Linked DNA regions of Homo sapiens: all the other regions are linked to region 1. The links come from fine-mapping of genetic effects on gene expression. A gene starts in region 1. Each other region holds a variant in brackets. All regions are shown on one strand. Distances are from middle to middle.

Evidence for each region. PIP is the estimated chance that this variant, and not a neighbour inherited with it, causes the effect. A credible set is the group of variants that fine-mapping cannot tell apart.
Region 2: its variant is the best candidate, but not a certain one, in a credible set for the expression of PIGZ in esophagus mucosa (GTEx, PIP 0.53).
Region 3: its variant is the best candidate, but not a certain one, in a credible set for the expression of PIGZ in tibial artery (GTEx, PIP 0.56).
Region 4: its variant is the best candidate, but not a certain one, in a credible set for the expression of PIGZ in prefrontal cortex (BrainSeq, PIP 0.89).

The regions. Positions count from the first base shown.
Region 1 is chr3:196,965,584-196,970,780 of GRCh38, reverse strand. It overlaps PIGZ (phosphatidylinositol glycan anchor biosynthesis class Z (Gwada blood group)), which reads left to right and starts at 1,948. Exons shown (of 3, transcript NM_025163.4): 1 at 1,948-2,094. LOC124906255 (collagen alpha-1(I) chain-like) reads right to left here and starts at 1,648. Exons shown (of 3, transcript XM_047449439.1): 1 at 1,532-1,648; 2 at 569-1,385; 3 at 1-480. The coding sequence starts at 1,648. The coding sequence ends at 570. RefSeq lists silencers at 609-828, 839-1,158, 1,269-1,328, 1,439-1,498, 1,509-1,718 and 1 more and enhancers at 764-1,299, 1,300-1,835, 1,836-2,371.
Region 2 is chr3:196,882,331-196,887,527 of GRCh38, reverse strand. It overlaps SENP5 (SUMO specific peptidase 5), which reads right to left. Exons shown (of 10, transcript NM_152699.5): 2 at 834-2,377. The coding sequence starts at 2,346. Among named protein-coding and RNA genes, the nearest start is that of SENP5, 17 kb to the right of the region's middle. The variant G/A (reference allele first, on the strand shown) is at 2,625.
Region 3 is chr3:196,906,957-196,911,956 of GRCh38, reverse strand. The region is part of intron 6 of SENP5 (SUMO specific peptidase 5); the gene reads right to left. Among named protein-coding and RNA genes, the nearest start is that of NCBP2-AS1, 30 kb to the left of the region's middle. The variant C/G (reference allele first, on the strand shown) is at 3,046.
Region 4 is chr3:196,928,052-196,933,248 of GRCh38, reverse strand. It overlaps SENP5 (SUMO specific peptidase 5), which reads right to left. Exons shown (of 10, transcript NM_152699.5): 9 at 3,566-3,616; 10 at 1-2,436. The coding sequence ends at 2,326. Among named protein-coding and RNA genes, the nearest start is that of NCBP2-AS1, 9.2 kb to the left of the region's middle. The variant C/G (reference allele first, on the strand shown) is at 2,962.

The DNA of each region.
Region 1 (5,197 bases):
AGAGTTGGCCTTTACAGTGGCTCTCCAGGGAGGTCTCAAGACCAAGGTAGAGGAAAATACAACACACACACGCCACACGGGCGACGCTCAGCTGCATGGTGCCAAGCGAAGAAAGCCAGGCACAAAAGACCACACGGTGAATGGTTCTCCTTGCATGCAATTGCGAGAGAGGCAAAGGGCAGTGACAGAAATCAGAGGAGCAGTTGTCTGGAACCAGGGCGGAGGGGAGGTGAGGGGTTAGCTGCAGAGGGGCAGGAGGGTACTTTTGGGAGGAGAGGACTTCTTGAACTCGGGGGGAGACTAGCCTGGTGGTTTCGCGTGTCAGAAGTCATGGAACTGAGCCGGGCATGGTGGCGGGGCCTGTGGTCCCAGCTGCTCGGGAGGCTGAGGCAGGAGGATCGCTGGAGCCTAGAAGTTCAAGGCTGCGGTGAGCCGAGATCGTGCCACCGCACTCCAGCCTGGGCGACAGAGACCCTGTATCTAAAAAATAAAGGAAAAAATTCATGGAACTGTATACTTCCATGTACTGTACTTAAATTTCCTGGTATTTATCGTATGTATAGAATACCTCACATCTTAATAAAGTCGTCGTTTTTAGTGTGAGGGGTGCTATGGGGCACGGAGGGCGATCCGGCTGCCGACCCTCGGCGGCGGCGCGGGAGTGCGAGGCCGGCGGGGAGGTCGGGTCCTGCGGCCTCGCCGGGGCCCCTGCAGCGCTCTCCCGCCAGGGGGCAGCGTCGGGCCGGCGGCGCGGGCGGGAAGCTCCAGCGGCCGGGACGCGGTGGTGCCGTCTTCCCCCTGCGGTGAGGGACCGCGTCGCGCCACCCCGCTCTCAGCGCAGCCCGCAGCGGCGAGGCCACCGGGTGGGACACGGGTGCCCGCGCGTCGCGCCGCAGCTCGCGGGGACCTGGCGCCCCGTCCCGGGAGGGGATCTGGCCCCCGGGCGCCGGCTCTCCGTCCACGCGGCGTCCTCCCTGCAGCCCGCTAGGGCCGCTCGCCCGTCGCCGCCTGCGGAACGCGGAGGGGCAGCACGGCCACGCCCGGCCACTCGAACCTGCTCCCCGGCGCCGCGTGACCGTGTCAGGTCCCCGTCGGCCTCGCCGTGCCGACCCCGGGCGCCTCCACAGTGGCTCGGAGGCCGCTGCTGCCCGGATGCCCGGGTTCCACGAGGCTCTCCCAGCCCGACAAGCCCGCCGATCCCACGGGCACGGGCGGAGGAGAGGGAACCGCCGCGCCCGCCCCGCGCGCCGTCGCCGACCCCGGTGGGTCGCGCTTCCCCGCGCACGCCGCGCTCTGGCGCGGGGAGAGGCCCCTCGGGGTCCGCCCGGGTCAGCGTCCCGCGGGGGTGGCGGCCGTTCGCTCAGCCTCCTCTCGACTTCCCTTTCCTGTCAGGGCTGCTGGGGCTGACAGGCTCCCGGGCAACCACGCCGGGGAACCCCTCACGCCCGCCGATCGCTGCGGGGCTCAGCAGCCGCCCCGTGCGCTGAGTCCCCTGTCATGAGTGACTCCATTGCGAGGCGTTTCGGGCCACGAAGCAGGACCGGGGGCCGCACTCCGGGTCCCCGCCCTGCCCTCGCCGACCTCCCGCGCGTGGAAGGGGGACGGCGGCGGCGGAGCTCCCCGCCACGGAGAACCCCGAAATGGTCATTTCGAACGAGAGGAGTGTGGCCTGGGGTGTCTGGTTTAACAGCCCCCCGCGCCGAAAGGCTGTTCGCCGAGGAGGGGCCGCCGGGGAGGGAGCCCGAGCGCGGCGGGGCGAGACCGGTCCCCGCCCGGCGTTGCCCGGCCCGAGGGACGGCGGCGCCCCCAGGACCCTCCCCAGCGCGGCCCCAGCTCGCTCCGGGACCGCGGGGCCAGGCCGGGCGGGAGCGCGGGGACGTACACGGCGGCCCCGCCCGCGCGCTCCTCCTCCCTCCCGGCCCGCCCTGCGCCGGCGGCGGCGGCCCCAGTCTCCGCGCTGCTGAGGCGCGCCCGGCCGCTCCCACGGCCTCCCCTCCGCCCTGCGGTCCCGCCGCCTCCGGGGCCTCCTGGGACCCTGGCCCTCGCCGGGCAGGACGCCGCCAGCGCTGAAGGCGCAGCCCGGAGGCCGCGCGGGTGAGTCGGTGCGCAGCCCCAGCGGCTCCAGAGGAGCGGGTGCGGGGAGGGCGAGCGGACCAAGTCGGCCGCGTTCCCACCTTGCGCGCAGCCGGGAGACCAGCAGGCCCAGCCTCTAGGGAGGAGGGCAGGGGAGCTGGGGGCCGCCCCCCGCATTCTCGCAGGCACCTGTCCCTAGGCCGGGGTCCGCTGGCTCGAAGCACTGACCCGCCCCGGACCTAGGGGGACGGAGGCAGCGGTGACATTTGCCCAGGAAGGGCGGCAGTGGGTAAACTCCACTCCAGGGCACGGGTCTGGGCGCAGGTTGAGGCCTGGGGTTGAATCTGCTTCTGCTAGAGGCCAGTGTTCTCAGGGAGGCCCATAACCCGACTGGGTCTCAGTTCCCCCTGGTATGAAACAGCAACAGGGCAAGAGGAGGAAACCATGCCACGCTGCAAAGCTCTGAGCACGAAGCCGAGAAGAATCTCGGCTCCCGGCCTCGGGGGCTGCACTTCGGGCCAGGCCTGCACTCCCAGGATAAGAGGATGGCCTCCTGCCCCAGGGGTGGCATGGGGGCGCGCAAAAAGCAAAGGTGACCCTGCCAGGGAGCACCCAGCGCTCCGGTTGGTGGTCATGGGGTCTTTGCGTGGGACTCACAGTGTGGCCGGGAAAGTTCTGTAATGAGGACATTTCTCATCATTCCTTCTTCTCAAAAGTCATTCGTCAGCCCCAGACACCTTTGCCTCGGAAAACTGAGAACTACTTTCAAAATCGTCAACACCCCCATCTCCTGCTACAGAGCGGAGTCCCCACTTTGCAGAGGCGCACTGCAAGGTCGCGGGTGGTTAAATGGTGCGCCCTCCTTGATGAAGATGCCTTGTTCTCTTTCACTCTCTATGTGTGTTTAATGTTGTGTGTTGCGTTCTCTGTGAAGCGAAGGATAAACACGGGCCCTTTCAGGCAACCGAAGGAAGAAGGCGGCCAGCATCAGATCTTCCCGTGCTTCAAGGTGGAGCACCCTGCAGGGCTTACTGCAGCGCTCAGGGTCAAAGTGAGGATGCAGTGCGGCACCAAAAGGCAAATGGACTCTGGAGAGCCACTCTCACCTTGTACCCCTGGAGTAGACCCCGAGGACTGGAGGACTGGAACAAGATCTTAGTCCTGAGGGCGGGAGAAGCAGCCTTTGGTGGTTGCACAGGGGCCCGGCTTTTCCCGAAGTCTTAAAGCCTGCTCCAAATGCCAGATTCAGACAAAGGGGCCGAACCTTGGGCCCGCCGCCTTCTCCCATAAGCGGCAACCCAGCAGCTTTGCCAGGAAGTTTACATGTGAAGGTACGGACCTTTCTTGGAATGAGCCACACCTGATGGCCCTGCCACTCCGGACGGCGCTCGTTCACGGCTGTCCCTGGAGCAGACACGGTTCTGCGCACACACCTGGGCGCCGGAGAAACAGGGCACCCAAAGCGGGCCCAGGCCCTCGGACTCAGCGAGCTGGACACGTGTCCCCATCACCCGCGGCTGGCGGGAGCAGTGTTTCTACTCCCTTCCCTCCCCTCCTCCCGCCCCGCAGATGTGCTGTCTTTCCCGGCCTCCCCCCGCGCCCAGCACAGTGGTTTCTGCTTGGCTGTTCCCCTGTCTCTGAGATGGTCTCTCCCTGCTGCTTGCCCTACACATTCTCCCACACAGGCGCGCGGGATGCCCCTGTCGGCGTGGTTGTCAATGCCTGCTCCCCTGCCCCCCAGTCCAATCTCCACGACTCTGGGCCCTGTCGCTTCATCCTAAAGCCTTCCGCTCACGAGCCCTCCCGACGACCGACCCCCAGGAGGCTACTGGAGATGCAGGATTTGGACCCGTGCTGGACCCGCACCCGGACAGATCCCTCTGAATGAATGAATGAATTAATGAGCAGGCTGCATCCTGATTAGGTTAAGGTGGGTGGTTGCCATGCTTGGCGTTGGCTCTGTCCCCTGGGATAAAAGGCGAGAGGCAGCCACATGGACAGCTCCTCCAGTGGGGTCTCAGACTGGAGAGACGCCAGCGGGCGGGGGTCGTTCCCTGGAGCTCCCGCATTTGTTATGGTCGATGCCCCACTACGTTGTCACCTTCTCCGGAGGACCTCCTGCTCTGTCCTTGACAGATGGGCCCCAGTGGGCCCACCCAGGCTGGAGATGAATCTCAAAGGGACTCCATGCCTGGGAGACCTCAGCCAAGCAGGGCAGAGAAATAATCAGACAACAGTCAGCGCATGGCGCCTGCAGAGTTTTGCACAGGGTCCTTCAGAAGGAGGGTTAGGGAAGACTTCTTGGGGGTTAGGGCAGTTAAGCAAGATGGATAAAGAAAGCAACCACTTATGTCTGCATATTTTCTTCATTTCATCTTCACAACAGCCCTGAGATAGGTACTTGTTTTAAAGCTGAGGTATAAATTGGGGTTCAGAGAGATTGAGTGCTTTCACCATGAACAAGTGACAGAGAGCAACGACTTGAACCGGGTTACCTGATGCCACCGCTGGTCTTAACCTCCATGTTATTAGCGTATTGGGTAAGTGAAACCGTGTGAGCCAAGAAGCTGGGGTGAGAAACAGCACGGAATAGAGGAGAGGGCTGCAGAAAGGCGTGATGTTTCTGGAGCACCGAATTCTACTCACGAACACAGGAGTGGAGGCGGGAAGGGGACACTGGAAGCTATGGAGGGCCTTGTCAGCCACAGTAAGGAATGTGGACCTGGTCCTCAGGGTGGTGAGGGGATGGCCCCCCATCCAGAGGTTTCTCACAGGGGAGTGATTCGGCCTGTCTCTGCCGCAGTCAGAAGGAAGGATGCAGTGAGAGAGGGAAAGTGGAGAGGCGGATGGCGGTGCAGTCTACTCCAGGTCATGCTTCTTACCATCTCCCTCATTATTCATCCACAGAAAATGATTGCTGTTATATGACACACTGGTTAACAAAGGAGGGGGCTGTTTGCAAACAGAAACAACCAACCCAGGGCCTCCAGCCATCCAAAGATTCTGCACAGCCAGCCACCCCTAAGGCTAAGAAATCCCAGGTACATGCACACCAGTCACAGCATACCTGGACTCAGACAATGACAGTGGAGAATGAGGAACAAGAGCTGGGTTCAAGGAATAA
Region 2 (5,197 bases), 83 kb after region 1:
ATTAAAAAAAAAAAAACAGAAACAATCCAGTTGAAAAATAGGCAAAGGGGCAGGGCACGGTGTCTCACGCCTGTAATCCCAGCATTTTGGGAGGCCAAGGTGGGTGGATCACGTGAGGTCAGGAGGTCGAGACCAGCCTGGCCAACATGGTGAAACCCCATCTCTACTAAAAATACAAAAATTAGCCAGGCATGGTGGCGGGTGCCTGTAATCCCAACTACTCGGGGGGTTGAGACAGGAGAATCACTTGAACCCAGGAGGTGGAGGTTGTGGTGAGCCAAGATCTCACCATTGCACTCCAGCCTGGCGACAGAGTAAGACTCCATCTCAAAAAAAAGAAAAATAGGCAAAGGAAAACCATGCACATACAAAAAAGTGGCCAATAAACACAGAAACAGATGTTCAAACTTAAAACTCAAAAATGCAAATTAAAACAAAACTCTGTGATCTGTAAGACTGCCAAAGCTTAACAAATGTAAACTGGTTCAACTTTTTGGAGGGTAACTTAATTATCTTAAAATTTTAAGTGTGAATATTCCTTCACCATCAATTCTAATAATGAGAATTTAGCTTACAGAAACAAATGTATAAATGTAAAGACATAATTTCATCGCACTATTAGCTTATGAAAAAAATGGAATCAATGCAAGTGTCTACAAGGATTAAATGATGGAACATCTACATAATGCAGCAATATAAAAGGCTTCAAGCAGACTAACTGGTTTAAAGAAATATTCATGAGTGGGAGAAAAAAATAGGACTCTTATTAGCAAGGATAATGCACAGCAAATGTGAGCTTGGAGTTTGAGGGAGAATAAAGGAAAAGTGCATACCAGAAAGACAGACTGACAGCTGTTCATCATCCACTGGAGAGGCTTTCTGACTGTTCTTTCCACCTCCTACTTGATTTTCTAGTTTGAGTCCACTGCACACCAAGGGAGCCTCCAGTGGACTTTTACAGTAAGGGTGGTCCAGCAACTCAGAACTAAGAATGCTCTGCTTGAGAGATCCATCCTCCTCCATCTGGTATGAGTTCTCATTTTGAACAGCCTTTTGGGACACAGGCCCATCTACGCTACTCACAGATGTATCTGCTCCAGACACTGACAGTTTTACTCTGTCATCACTGACAGAACTTGTCTGATTTTCCTGACCCAGAGTCATAATTTCTCTTTCAGTTTCTGAAATGAACATGGTATTAGAACGATGTTCTGGTAAGGGGATGTCATGAATCAGCTCTGTACACTCCCACTTAGGAGAAGAACAGGATGACTGGTCCCAGGCGTTTGTGGCACTGCCATTCTGTTGGTCAGGGAATGCTTCGTCTAAACTAAGCTCCTTGCCCAAGAAAGAGCTTCCTTTAGTGTGGCAATCAGGCACATGAGAGTTCGTCCCCTTCACCACAGCACTGCTGTCCATATCTGGAAAGTACGGCTGATGCCGACAAGAAGGGTCTTTAGGTTCTGGGGAAGGAAATGGGCTGCAACTGCCACCCTCACCGTTCTCCCTACGGGTCTCTTGATGGTCCCCAGTGACTTTCTGTACCCAGCTTCGCTGGGCTTTTCTTAGCTTGCAAACCTTGCTTTTGGTTCTGAAGTGCTGGGATCTGAGAATCCTGTACCGAAATCTAATCATGGATAATTTCTCATACATCATAAGAGGAGATAATTTTATCCTTCTATGTTGGTTAAGTTGGAACTTTTTTGGAATCAAGGGTCCCCCATTCCTGTGGTGCTCCGGCCCTTGGCAGCAGCCGTAACAAAAGCCCTTTCTCTTATGGTTGTTCAAGGTGACCACAATCGTGCCACTCTCACCTGGACTTTGGCTCTCCCCATTGAACTTCATGGGAAAGTCAGAAGGTTGTGGGTCTGTCCTAGGTCTGTGACCATTGGCCTGACCTAAAGCACTATTTGATGGAAAGTCAGTAACTGCCTTCAAGAGATTTTTCTCTCTGCAGTATTCATGGTCAGAATTCTTTGCTGATGACAACAGCTTCTCTGCTTGGAGTCTCAGGAGAGTCTTTGAGGAGGAAATGAAGTGTTTAGCGTCCTTTCTTTTCACTTTAGAGGACAAAGTACTAACATTTTGAGTAGCCACATTGAACTTGGTCTTAGCACAAAGGGGTTCATCCTTGATCCACGTTTTCTGGATTTGAAGAGCTTTCTTTCTACCCTGGAAATGTCTCAACTGTCTATTCCAAGTAACTGGCCTTCCCAGCTTAGCTTTCAGAATGCACAAGTGTTGGTGAAAATAAAACTTCTTAAAGCCTCCAAACCCAGTATTCCATTTCTCAGAAAAGGCTAAGTGGATTCCTTTCCTCCATAGAATTTTCCTCTGTTTTTTCATTTTTCTGATGCATAATGAGATCTGGATGCAGCTGTAAAGAAGAGAAGTAAGTTATATTTCTATCTAAAAATAAGGTCATGAAGACATATTCACAGTAACTAAGGCAGAAAATTGAGAAAAAAAAAGAGTACATATACTTCAATTTAGACTATTGGACACAATGAAATCTTATCTGACCAAGGTTTTCATCACAATGAAAACTGGAGAGGAGGGAGGACATGAGTAGTCTAACAAAAAGCCATTTGCTGTACACCTGCCTCTGAGAAAAATAAACTTAA[G/A]AATCATTTTCGACCAGGCGCAGTGGCTCACACCTGCAATCCCAGCACTCTGGGAAGCCAAGGTGCAAGGATTGCTTGTAATCCTCACACCTGACACCAGCTCCTGGTGAGGCTGAGGCAGGAGAATTGCTTGAACCTGGGAGGTGGAGGTTGCACTGAGCCAAAAATCGCGCCACTGCACTCCAGCCTGGGTGACAAGAGCGAAACTCCATCTCAAAAAAAAAAAAAACAAAAAAAAACTGATTTCTGTAACCTCAGTGTGATTTGGAGAGGGAACTGAGGTAAACATGTGTTCAGTCCTCCATTTTTTTCCCCAGAGAAAACTTATACACAGAAAGGTAATACAGCACTTCTGAGTAAACTGTTGTCAAGCTGAAATTAGAATATTGGCTTCTGTTTCATAGTCTTTCTTCCACTCTACCTGCAGTGACTGGTGCCTTTCTTTCTAGACTAAAGAGCCTTCGCTAATATTAGATTTTATTAAATCCTGAGGGGAAGTTATTGTTTGGATTTGACTGTCATTCATTTCCATCTACTTCTAGAGTGTGTTCCTGCAGTATATGTGTGTATGCTTGTGTTGGTTCTTTTTTCTTATATTCACTTGAGATCCAGAACCATCACTGGGTGAGAGCATTTGATAAAGTCCTGTCCTTGCATGGCTACCCAGAGTCTTTGACTGGTAACAGAGGAGCGTGGCTTCCCTCTTGAGATGCTGACCTCACATGTATTTACTAAATATCTACTGGTGCATGACTATACAGAACAAAAGTACCTGCTCTTTTAAAAATCTGCTGTATGAAACTAATTATTTTGCTATGAGCAAATTATAATTAAGTCAATATGGAATCAGTCTTAAGTGGTATTTGGTCTCCTCTCCCTTCCCCGTCCTTCATTTTACACATGAGAACACAGGGCCAGGTGTGGTGGCCCATGCCTGTAATCCCAGCACTTTGGGAAGCCGAAGCAGATGGATTACCTGAGGTCAGGAGTTCGAGACCAGACTGGCCAACATGGTGAAACCCCGTCTCTACTAAAAATACAAAAATAATTAGCCAGGCATGATGATGAGTGCCTGTAATCTCAGCTACTTGGGAGGCTGAGGCAGAAGAATTGCTTGAACCTGGGAGGTGGAGGTTGCAGTGAGCCAAGATTGCGCCACTGCACTCCAGCCTGGGAGACAAGAGTGAAGCTCTGTCTCCAAAAAAAAAAGCAGCAGCTATAGGACCTCAGAAAGCAGAAAGGCTCAGAAGCAGAGGCAACATATACCTATGAAAGTCAGGAGTATGGGTGGTGTTGAAAAGGAAACGCTGGCTCAAAGTCTGAATAAGAAGCAGTGAAACTCCTAGATACCATCTCCTACCGTGGCAGATGATGAAAGTTTCACTTTCTGAGGAGGATGACCCAGGATAGTCCAGTATATCATGTACAGCTGAGCACAGGGGTATACCAGGAGGATAAATGAGTTTACACCGTGAATTCCCCTCCAGGCCCTTCCCCACTCAGCTTCCATAAGACTGGCAAGAAGCTCTATACCCACAAGAAGGCGACTAGTCCCTGGGGGAAAACAGATCATTCACGGAGAAAAAACCAACAGATAGTGATATTTGGGGATGTCACAACAAAATAAGTCTGAACAATGACTCAATAGGGTGGCCTAAAGTTTAAGAAGCAGTTAGACTCCAGATCCCTACTTAACTCCACATGGCAGGTAAGTGACCCTCCCCCACCCAAGATTGGAAGTTTATCCTTTAGATAAAATAGTGAAATGTAAAATGCAAAAAAGAGTAAAATGGAAAGTCTGCAGACACAGGGACTCCAGGCATAATTTGAAGATGGAATTATATACTGCATATGAGACTCCGAACACACTTTGCCACTCATCTCCCAGAATGCTAGCAGTCTGTCTCACCCATACAAGCAGACTGAAGATTCTTTTCTGGAGACTATAACTAGTCCACCAAAAAAAAAAAAAAAATCCATAAAGATACAGATATTACCCCACAAAATGGCCCACAGTGTACCCCAAAGTTGACACATTCCACCATGTGTTAAGAGTTCCCAAGCAGTTTCTTAGTGGTCATTATTAAAAACAACTAGACGGGCTGGGCATGGTGGCTCACGCCTGTAATCCCAATACTTCGGGAGGCCAAGGTGGGCAGAGCACTTGAGGTCAGGAGTTCGAGACCAGCCTGGCCAACATGGCAAAACCCCATCTCTATTAAAAATACAAAAATTAGCTGGGCATGGTGGTGCATGCCTGTAATCCCAGCTACTTGGGAGGCTGAGGCACAGGAATTGCCTGAACCTGGGAGGCAGAGGTTGTGGTGAACTGAGATCGCACCACTGCAGTCTAGCCTGGGCGACAGAGCAAGACTCTGTCTCAAAAAAATAAAATAAAAAATAAAGGATGACCAAGAATCACCAGATGTCTAGGGATAAAAACAGACCAAAACAAACAGATAAAAGCAAAAACTATATAAAGTCAACTTTTATAAACCAACAGGGAGGGGGAGAAAAGGGAGTTATTGCTTAATGGGTACAGAATTTCAGTTTGGGAAGATAAAAAGGTTCCT
Region 3 (5,000 bases), 59 kb after region 1:
ATGTCTCCACAGCCTTGCCAGCTTCTATTGTTTCTTGACTTTTTAATAATTGTCATTTCTGACTCGCATGAGATGGTATCTCATTGTGGTTTTGATTTGCATTTCTCTAATGATCAGTGATTAGCTGTTTTTGTTTTGTTTTTTTTTGAGACGGAGTCTTGCTCTTGTTGCTAAGGCTGGAGTGCAATGGCACAATCTCAGCTCACGCAACCTCTGCCTCTCAGGTTCAAGCGATTCTCCTGCCTCAGCCTCCCGAGTAGCTGGGATTACAGGCCCCCACCACCACAACTGCCTCAGCTTCCCAAAGTGCTGGGATTACAGGCGTGAGCCACCGCGCCCAACTGATGAGGTTTTTTCATATGTTTTTTGGCTACATAAATGTCCTTTTTTTTTTTTTTTTGAGACAAAGTCTCACTCTGTCGCCCAGGCTGGAGTGCAGTGGCGCAATCTTGGCTCACTGCAACTTCCACTTCCCAGGTCAAGCAATTCTCCTGTCTCAGCCTCTCGAGTAGCTGAGACTACAGACATAAATGTCTTCTTTTGCGAAGTGTCTGTTCATATCCTTTGCCCACTTTCTGATGGTTTATTTTTCTTGTAAATCTGCTTAAGTTCCTTGTAGATTCTGGATATTAGATCTTTGTCAGGTGGGTAGACTGCAAAAATTTTATCCAATTCTATAGGTTGCCTGTTCACTCTGATGATAGTTTCTTTTGCTGAGCAGAAACTCTTTAGTTTAATTAGAATCCATGTTGGCTTTTGCTGCAATTGCTTTTGGTGTTTTTGTCATGAAGTCTTTGCCCACGCCTATGTCCTGAATGGTACTGCCTAGGTTTTCTTCTAGGGTTTTTACGATTTTGTGTTTTACAATTAAGTCTTTAATTCATCTTGAGTTAATTTTTGTATAAGGTGTAAGGAAGGGGTCCAGTTTCAGTTTTCTGCATATGGCTAGCCAGTTTTCCCAGCATCATTTATTAAATAGGGAATCCTTTCCCCATTGCTTTTGTCGGGTTTGTCAATGATGAGATGGTTGTGTATGTGTGGTGTTATTTCTGAGGTCTCTGTTCTGTTCCATTGGTCTATATGCCTGTTTTGGTACCAATACCACGTTGTTTTGGCTACTGTAGCCTTGTAGTATAGTTTGAAGTTAGGTATGTGATGCCTACAGCTTTGTTCTTTTTGCTTAGGATTGTCTTGGCTATACAGGCTCTTTTTTGTTTCCATATGAATTTTAAAGTAGTTTTTTCTAATTCTGTGAAGAATGCCAATGGTAGTTTGATGGGAATAGCATTAAATCTATTAATTACTTTGGGCAGCCAGGAGTGGTGGCTCACATCTATAATCCCAGCACTCTGGAAGGCCGAGGCAGGCGGATCACGAGGTCAGGACATCGAGACCATCCTGGCTAACACGGCGAAACCCTGTGTCTACTAAAAATACAAAAAATTAGCTGGGCATGGTGGTGCATGCCTGTAGTCCCACCTACTCGGGAGGCTGAGGCAGGAGAATTGCTTGAACCCGGGAAGTGGAGGTTGCAGTGAGCCACGATCATGCCACTGCATTCCAGCCTGGGCAATGGAGCGAGACTCCATCTCAAAAAAAAAAAAAAAAAAAAAAAAAAAAAGATTACTTTGGGCAGTATGGCCATTTTCAAGATACTGGTTCTTCCTATCCACGAGGATGGAATATTTTTCCATTTGTTTGTGTCCTCTCTTACTTCCTTGAGCAGTGGTTTGTAGTTCTCCTTGAAGAGGTCCTTCACATCCCTTATAAACTGTATTCCTAGGTATTTTATTCTCTTTGTAGCAATTGTGAATGGGGGTTCATTCATGATTTGGCTCTCTGCTTGTCCATTGCTGGCGTATAGGAATGCTTGTGATTTCTGCACATTGATTTTGTATCCTGAGACTTTGCTAAAGTTTCTTATCAACGTAAGGGGTTTTGGGGCTGAGACGATGGCATTTTCTAAATATAGAATCATGCCATCTGCAAGAGACAATTTGACTTCCTCTCTTTCTATCTGAATACCCTGTATTTCTTTCTCTTGCCTGATTGCCCTGGCCAGAACTTCCAATATTATGTTGAATAGAAGTGATGGGAGAGGGCATCCTTGTCTTGTGCCAGTTTTCAAAGGGAATGTTTCCAGCTTTTGCCCACTGATATTGGCTATGGGTTTGTCATAAATAGCTCTTATTATTGAGATATGTTTGATGAATACCTAGTTTATTGAGAGTTTTTAAATGAAGGGATGCTGAATTTTATCGAAGGTCTTTTCTGCATCTACTGAAATAATCATGTGGTTTTCGTCACTGGTTCTGTTTATATGACGGATTATGTTTACTGATTTGCATATGTTGAATCAGCCTTGCATCCCAGGGATGAAGCCAACTTGATCATGGTGGATAAGCTTTTTGATGTGCTGCTGGATTTGGTTTGCCAGCATTTTATTGAGAATTTTTCGCACCGATGTTCATCAGGGATATTGGCCTGAAATTTTCTTTTTTTGTGTCTCTGCCAGGTTTTGGTATCAGGATGATGCCGGCCTCATAAAATGAGCTAGGGAGGAGTTCCTCCTTTTCAATTGTTATGAAATAGTTTCAGAAGGAATGGTATCAGCTCCTCTTTGTACCTCTGGTAGAATTTGGCTGTGAATCCATCTGGTCCTGGGCTTTTTGTGGTTGGTAGGCTATTAATTACTGCCTCAATTTCAGAATTTGTTATTGGTCTATTCAGACATTCCACTTCTTCCTGATTTAGTCTTGGGAAGGTGTATGTGTCCAGGAATTTATCCGTTTCTTCTAGATTTTCTAGTTTATTTGTGTAGAGGTCTTTATAGTATTCTCTGATAGTAATTTGTATATTTCTGTGGGGTCAATGGTGATATCCCCTTTATCATTTTTTATTGTGTCTATTTGATTCTTCTCTCTTTTCTTCTTTAGTTTAGCTAGAGGTATTTTTTGTTAATTTTTTCAAAAAATCCAGCTCCTGGATTCACTGATTTTTTGAAGGGTTTTTTTGTGTTTCTATCTCCTTCAGTTCTGCTCTGAT[C/G]TTAGTTATTTCTTGTTTTCTGCTAGCTTTTGGATTTGTTTGCTCTTGCTTCTCTATTTCCTTGTTGTTGTTTTTGTTTGTTTGTTTTGAGACAGAGTTTCACTCTTCTTGCCCAGGCTGGAGTGCAATGGCGCAATCTCAGCTCACCACAACCTCCACCTCCCGGGTTCAAGTGATTCTCCTACCTCGGCCTCCCAAGTAGCTGGGATTACAGGCATGTGCCACCACACCCAGCCAATTTTGTATTTTTAGTAGAGATGGGGTTTCTCCATGTTGGTCAGGCTCATCTCAAACTCCTGACCTCAGGTGATCTACCCGCCTCAGCCTCCCAAAGTGCTGGGATTACAGGCATGAGTCACCACGCCCAGCCGCTTCTCTAGTTCTTTTAATTGTGATGTCAGGATGTTGATCTGAGATCTTTCCAGCTTTTCGATGTGGGCATTTAGTGCTATAAACTTCCCTCTTAACACTGCTTTAGCTGTGTCCCAGAGATTCTGGTACATTGTCTCTCTGTTCTCATTGGTTTCAAAGAACTTCTTGATTTCTGCCTTAATTTCTTTATTTACCCAGGAGTTATTCAGGAACAGGTTGTTTAACTTTCCTGTAGTTGCCTTTTTTATTTGTTTTAAATTGAGACAAGGTCTCAGTCTGTCACCCAGGCAGGAGTGCAGTGGCGTGATCAGGGTTCACTGCAGCCTCGACCTCCCAGGCTCAAGTGATCCTCCCACCGCAGCCTTCTGGATAACTGGGACCACAGGCTGCCACCATGGCCAGCTAAGTTTTTTAAATTTTTTATAGAAACGGGGTCTCGCTTGGTTGCCTAGGCTGATTTGAAACTCTTGGGCTCAAGCAATCCTCCCATCTACAGTAATTTTAGGCCTCCCAAAGTGTTCAGACTGCAGATGTGAGACACAGCGCCCAGCCTCTTTAAATGTCACTTCATTTTCAACCTTTCTTTTTCATATTATTTTATGTATACTTCTTATATTCAGCATAAACCTGGGTTTTTTTTTTTTTTACTTAACCCAATCTCAGAGGATCTACAGCAAGCTTGTCCAGTCCACAGCCCACGGGCAGCATGCAGCCCAGGACGGCTCTGAATGCAGCCGAACACAAATTTGTAGACTTTCTTTTATGAGATCTTTTTTGCAATTTTTTTTGTTTTAGCTCATCAGCTATTGTTAGTGTTGGTGTATTTTATGTGTGGCCCAAGACAACTCTTCTTCTTCCAGTGAGGCTCAGGGAAGCCAAAAGATTGGACACCCCTGATCTAGAGGAAGGAATAATTTAGTTTATTATTTAATGAAACAACTCACATATTTGACTTTATTCTTTCACTCTCATGTTTATCATTCAGATACTTTTCCATGAATGTATATTTTTTGCCCACACTGCTTGTAATTTTTCCCACCCCAAATGGAATATAAGCATCTTCCATTATCTTTTTTTTTTTTTTTTGAGACGGAGTCTCTCTGTCGCCCAGGCTGGAGTGCAGTGGTGCGATCTTGGCTCACTGCAAGCTCCGCCTCCTGGGTTCAGTCTCCTGAGTAAGTGGGACTACAGGCATCCGTCACCACGCCCGGCTAATTTTTTTGTATTTTTAATAGAGATGGGGTTTCACCGTGTTAGCCAGGATGGTCTCTATCTCCTGACCTCGTGATCCGCCTGCCTCGGCCCCTCAAAGTGCTGGGATTACTGATGTGAGCCACTGTGCCCGGCCCATCGTTCATTATCTACACAGCTTTTCCTGCTTAAGTAGCATCCAATTATATGACTGTACATTTTAAATTTGAACAATCCTCTACTAGTTGTCCTACATTTTTCTAATGTAAATACAACCATAGGCCGTCCAGTCATACAAGTCACATACTTGGAAGTCATCTTTCACACTTCCTTGTCCTTCATCTCCATAACCAACTTATCACCAAATCCTGTTAATTTTACTTCCTACATCA
Region 4 (5,197 bases), 38 kb after region 1:
AGGTCAGGAGTTCAAGACCAGCCTGGCCAACATGGTGAAATCCTGTCTCTACTAAAAGTACAAAAATCGGTGGGGCGTGGTGGCACACACCTGTAATCCCAGCTACTTGGGAGGCTGAGGCAGGAGAATCGCTTGAACCTGGGAGGTGGAGGTTGCAGTGAGGCAAGATTGCGCCATTGCACTCCAGCCTGAGGGACAGTGAGACTCTGACTCAAAAAAAAAAAAAAACAAAAAACCCAAACTCAACATTTAGTCTAAGCCACACTGGGCAGCACACCTCAAGGTGCCCTATGAAGCATGAGACTGGAAGTGGAAGAGTCACTGGATTTGGGCAGCTCTCTCTCGGCGTTGATTTTCTTACAGGAACAATTCTGTCTCTTCTGCATGCCAGGTTCTGTCACTGAGGAACTGAAACACTTCCTCACTCTGAAGTACAAGACATTTTGAACTGACAGCCCAGTGACTGGCTACTTTGGTATACCACACCCCCACAAAAAAAAAAAAAAAAAAAAAAAAAAAATCAGAGGCAAATTTCTGGCATGTTTTGAAAAATCTCATGTTTGCATAATTATGTTTGAAAAACTCATTATGAGATCTTCCTTACCCTAAACTGTCATTTTTTCCTAACGCTGACAGAACCCCACCTATAGCAGCATAAAGTGCCTCTACTCTCAGTCTTTTTAACGACTTGAAACACAGTAAGAAACACTGACCTGGTTTGACATTAAGGATTTTGGGTCTGGAGGACTCAGGAGAGGAAAGTGCTGGGGCTGCTTCCCAGTGTCACCACTGGTGTTGGGAACCCTGCATGTAAACATGGTCGGACTCAATCCTCAACTGCTGGCAGTCAGCCTTCTCAACCATACCTCAGGGCCAAGTGAAACTAAACATTTTAGCTTTTTCAACACTCCAAACCTACGCGGGCATAAACTCGAGAATCTTCTGCCATTTACTTTGTTTTTCTATTCAGACTTCTGAGTTTCTCATACATACATTGGTTGGTTTTCCTCCCAATTCAGAAAGGGTAACTGGGTAGGTTTCACATGTATCTTTCCAACATGTCACGAAAGGCTGGATTAAAGATGTGAGACGCGTGATATTCATCCTAATGCAGCTAAGTGTATGGACAAGGGCCACTTGGCCTTTCTTCAGAAGATGAGGTTCAACAGAAGGAGAAGAACAGCTGTGCTAGTGTCAGCACTGGCCATGCAGAAGCCAGACGTACCCTGCATGTTACTGAGGTCACTAATGGGACAGGAGAAAGAACCTGACACGGTTGCTGCGCTCCCATGGGACTAAGTTGTCTCTATTACCTTCCCTCTTCTCTCCAGCCACCTGCAAAACATCTCAAGTCAGTCAGCCTTCAGTTTTGAATGTTTACGTTTCAGATACCCTTGAAATAGAAATGCATTTGGTAAACCTTAACTTCTTCCAATTGGGAGGCAACACAGGGAAATGACAACTTAAAAATTACTCTGAGAACAGCTGCATTCTCATTTGTTTGACCACTAGTTTGATGGATGTTAAGATTTTTTTAACAGGTCGAAAACAGAAAAATTCAGGGAATTCAATATCCCAGCAAAAGCCTTTATGAGATGTATGCCACGTATTATAATTCCTAAAACCACGATTGAAATCTGTCATTGTTACTGGCCTCCAAGGTTGCTTTTTCTCACACCTTACTCCTCCCAAAGCAGCCACTGTGCTTACAAGTGTGCCTCCAGAAACAGAAGACACCAGTCAGTTTACGACCACTTCCATCTCACCCTTCAAAAGGAATGGACTGCACTCTCTAAGACTCACTTGGAGAGGGAAGTTGGTGAAAGTTGCCGCTGGTAAAGTAAAACAGGACTGGATTTGTCAAAACCACCCCCAGCTACCCTTAATGCCCCAGGGAACACTTACTATTCTCAGAGTTATGTTGTATCAAAAACATCTTGCATTTTTAGGTTCTGGGAGTAAATTTGAAACCTGTATTCAGTTCACGTCTAACTAAGTTTCAAAAGCTGCACCAAATCTACTAAGCTTTTTTTTTTAATACTCTTCACTGCATGCTCTGTCTATATGCATGCGTTTGAATAATAAATATTAAATATGGGGGACGCACAGAACCATAAAATTAAAAATGAAACCAAACTGAACATTAAACAATAGTACATGGTAGCTGGAGAAATGAATAAGGGCAAAAAATAAATTTGAGGTAACAATAGTGGCCCAACACCACTGATCTGAAATATCTGTAAAAATTCAACTAAGTGTTTGGAGATTCAAGTAACAAACCATCTGCTCCAACTTGGTCAGACTTCCCAGAGTCCCTGCTGAGTTTCAGTCCATGAGCCGGCACTCACATAGCTCCTTGTAAATCCTCTTCCGCACTCGGGGCATGTCTTCTTGTGAAAACTGGAAAGGCTGCTCTAAGGCGAGGCACTTGCAGTACTGCAAAAAAAAAGGTCCCAGAAACACTTCAGTGGCACTTGGAGTTGTGGACCAGCCCATTCTGTTTTACTAAATGCAGACCTAATAGTGTCTAAGGCAGAAGACCCCAACCTTTTTGGCACCAGGGACTGGTTACGTGTAAGGCAATTTTTCCACAGACTTGGGGGAGAGGGGGTTGGTTTCAGGATGAATTATCAGGCATTAGTTAGATTCTCATAAGGGGTGAGCAACCTAGATCCCTCGCATCTGCAGTTCACAACAGGGTTCACACTCCTAAGAGAACCTAATGTGGACAGTATCTGTCCGTGGCCCAGGGGTTTGGGACCCCGATCTAAGGCAGCATTTTCATGTCTGTTTAAACTACTGTAAAAATACACTGTTTTAAGCATTTACCCAAATTATAGGTGACTGACCAAGCTAGTGCATGGCTTGGGATCTCCTCTCCCTCCTGACCCAATACTGTGAAAAGCAGCAACTGATGAAAAGGCCTCAATTCCTCCCAAAGTGCAACCTGCTGGAGTGCAG[C/G]TAGACCCATCATGGCCCTTAATGGGAACTTGAATTTGTTTATAAAACCCCAAACATGCATGAGGTATACAAACGAACCGGTCTTCCAAGATCTTTGCAAATCTCTAAATTCATGCATCATATTCTGTAATTTCCAACATAAATATATGTATAACTGAATTTTTTTCCATAGCCCTTTTCGATCTCTAAGGAGATCTACAGCACAAGATGGCAGTTTCTCAACGTGGACCTTATTTAAAATCTAATCACTGTGTCAAAGACCTGCAGATTGCTTGCCAATGTTTTTTTTTTTTTTTTTTTATGCAAATGCCAATGGTTATGATATGGACAAATTCAAGTCAGTCTCCAATGTGGCTTACTAATAACCTCCAGTGAGACATGGATGACACCCACACTTCACTCTTGATCCCTGGAAGGTGGTTCTTCCTAATGATAACATCTGAACATGCAGAAACTACTGCTCCTCAGCAATAAAGGGGAGGGAAAGTACTCCGTTGCTCGTACCTAGCATCATATACACATACAGGAACTGCCATCTCTCCCCTCTCAACCCAACAGACTCAATTCACACATTGTAAGTTCCGAAAAGCAAGTGTTTCTTTACCTGGAGCACAAAGACTCCACAGTCACTGTCGTTTTTCTGTTGTGGAATACACTGAAGGGAAAAACAAAATAGTCATTAAAACAAGATCCATTACTTCTCTTCAGATAAGAAAAACTCCTTTATGGAAAAATGCGCAAAAGATAGGAAACTTTTCTCTCTCCAGGACAGCTGGTATATCTGATATCTCAAGCATCTAATTTTATGGAGGCACCTGGCCACATAAAAAGAGCTATCAGGTGGCAACCCCAATTTATAGGACAATGTTTTACCTAAATATGAGAAATGGGAAATCAAATGTAAAAACCTGTTTTAAAACATGCATTTGGATACTGAGCTCTGCTATCAATTCATTGACAGTGGAGTCAAAATGGAACTGTGCCTGGGAGAACAAAGGCCCAGCCTCTGGATGCTAGGATGGCGACAACTCCGCTGAGCAGTCTTCACTTCTGATCTCACATCACACGACCCTGTCCTATTCTTTGAAAGAAATCGTGAAGGTAAACAGTATGGTTTTTGTTTTGGGTTTTTCGCGACAGGGTCTCACTCTGTCGCCCAGGCTGGAGTGCAGTGGCACGATCTCAGTCTCCTGAGTTCAAGCAATCCTCCCACCTCAGCATCCCAAGTAGCTGGGACTACGCCTGGCTAATTTTATTATTTGTAGAGATGAGGTCTCACCATGTTGCCCAGGCTGGTCTTGAACTCCTAGACTCACGCAATCCACGCACCTTTGCCTCCCAAAGTGCTGGGATTACAGGTGTGAGCCACTGTGCCCGGCCAACAGTATGTTTTTAAAAGAACTGGTTACTGTATTCTGCTCAAAGCGGTAATACAGAAGATCCTGACTAAATTTAGAATACCCAGATTTTTTAGTTGGGTAAATTCAGGAAATTTACTAGTTCTGGTTTGAACTGGTATACTAGGTTATTCAAAACACAAAACTTAAGCTTAATTTTAAAATTTAGCATTTGGTTCGGTTCAAGGGTGAACTAATAAATCTTGTCTCTTTGGGTTTGGGTTAAAGGTTTGTTTCAAGATCCTGCCTATAACATCCTGTCAATGATCCAGACAGACCTGTGTTCAAGGACCTGACTCTGTATCAATAGTTTTGATGTCCTTTGGGGAAAATCACACCTGGGCTTCAGTTTTCTCATTTACAAAATAAAGACGATGCTTATCCCTAAATGACCTGCCTACCTCACAGGTTATAAGGATCAAATGAGATCCAATACACAAAAACACTGGAAACAACACAGCCCACCATCAATGAAGACACTGGTATTTACGACAGGAATGAGCGGCTGTGCCTGGGCACTCTGCCCCACAGTTTGAATGTCATGGGCCAAGCATGGTGCTGCATCCAGACAGTGGTGGGACTGAAGCGCTTGGGCTACTATCTTCCCCACATGCCTGCCAAGTAGCTCAATGCACTTTCTCCCCCTCAGTGGATCCAAATAGTCATTTCAGCATTTCTCTGGGTCTATATGGGTCATCTGGAAATAAGAGCCATGATGCAAGAGGCAAGTGCCACCCAAAAAAGATTTTTTTTTTCCCCAGAAGAGCAAACACATCATTAGCAACTTCCTCAGGGAGGAAATGACTGAAGTGATTTGCTCCCGGGAAGCACTGGGCAAC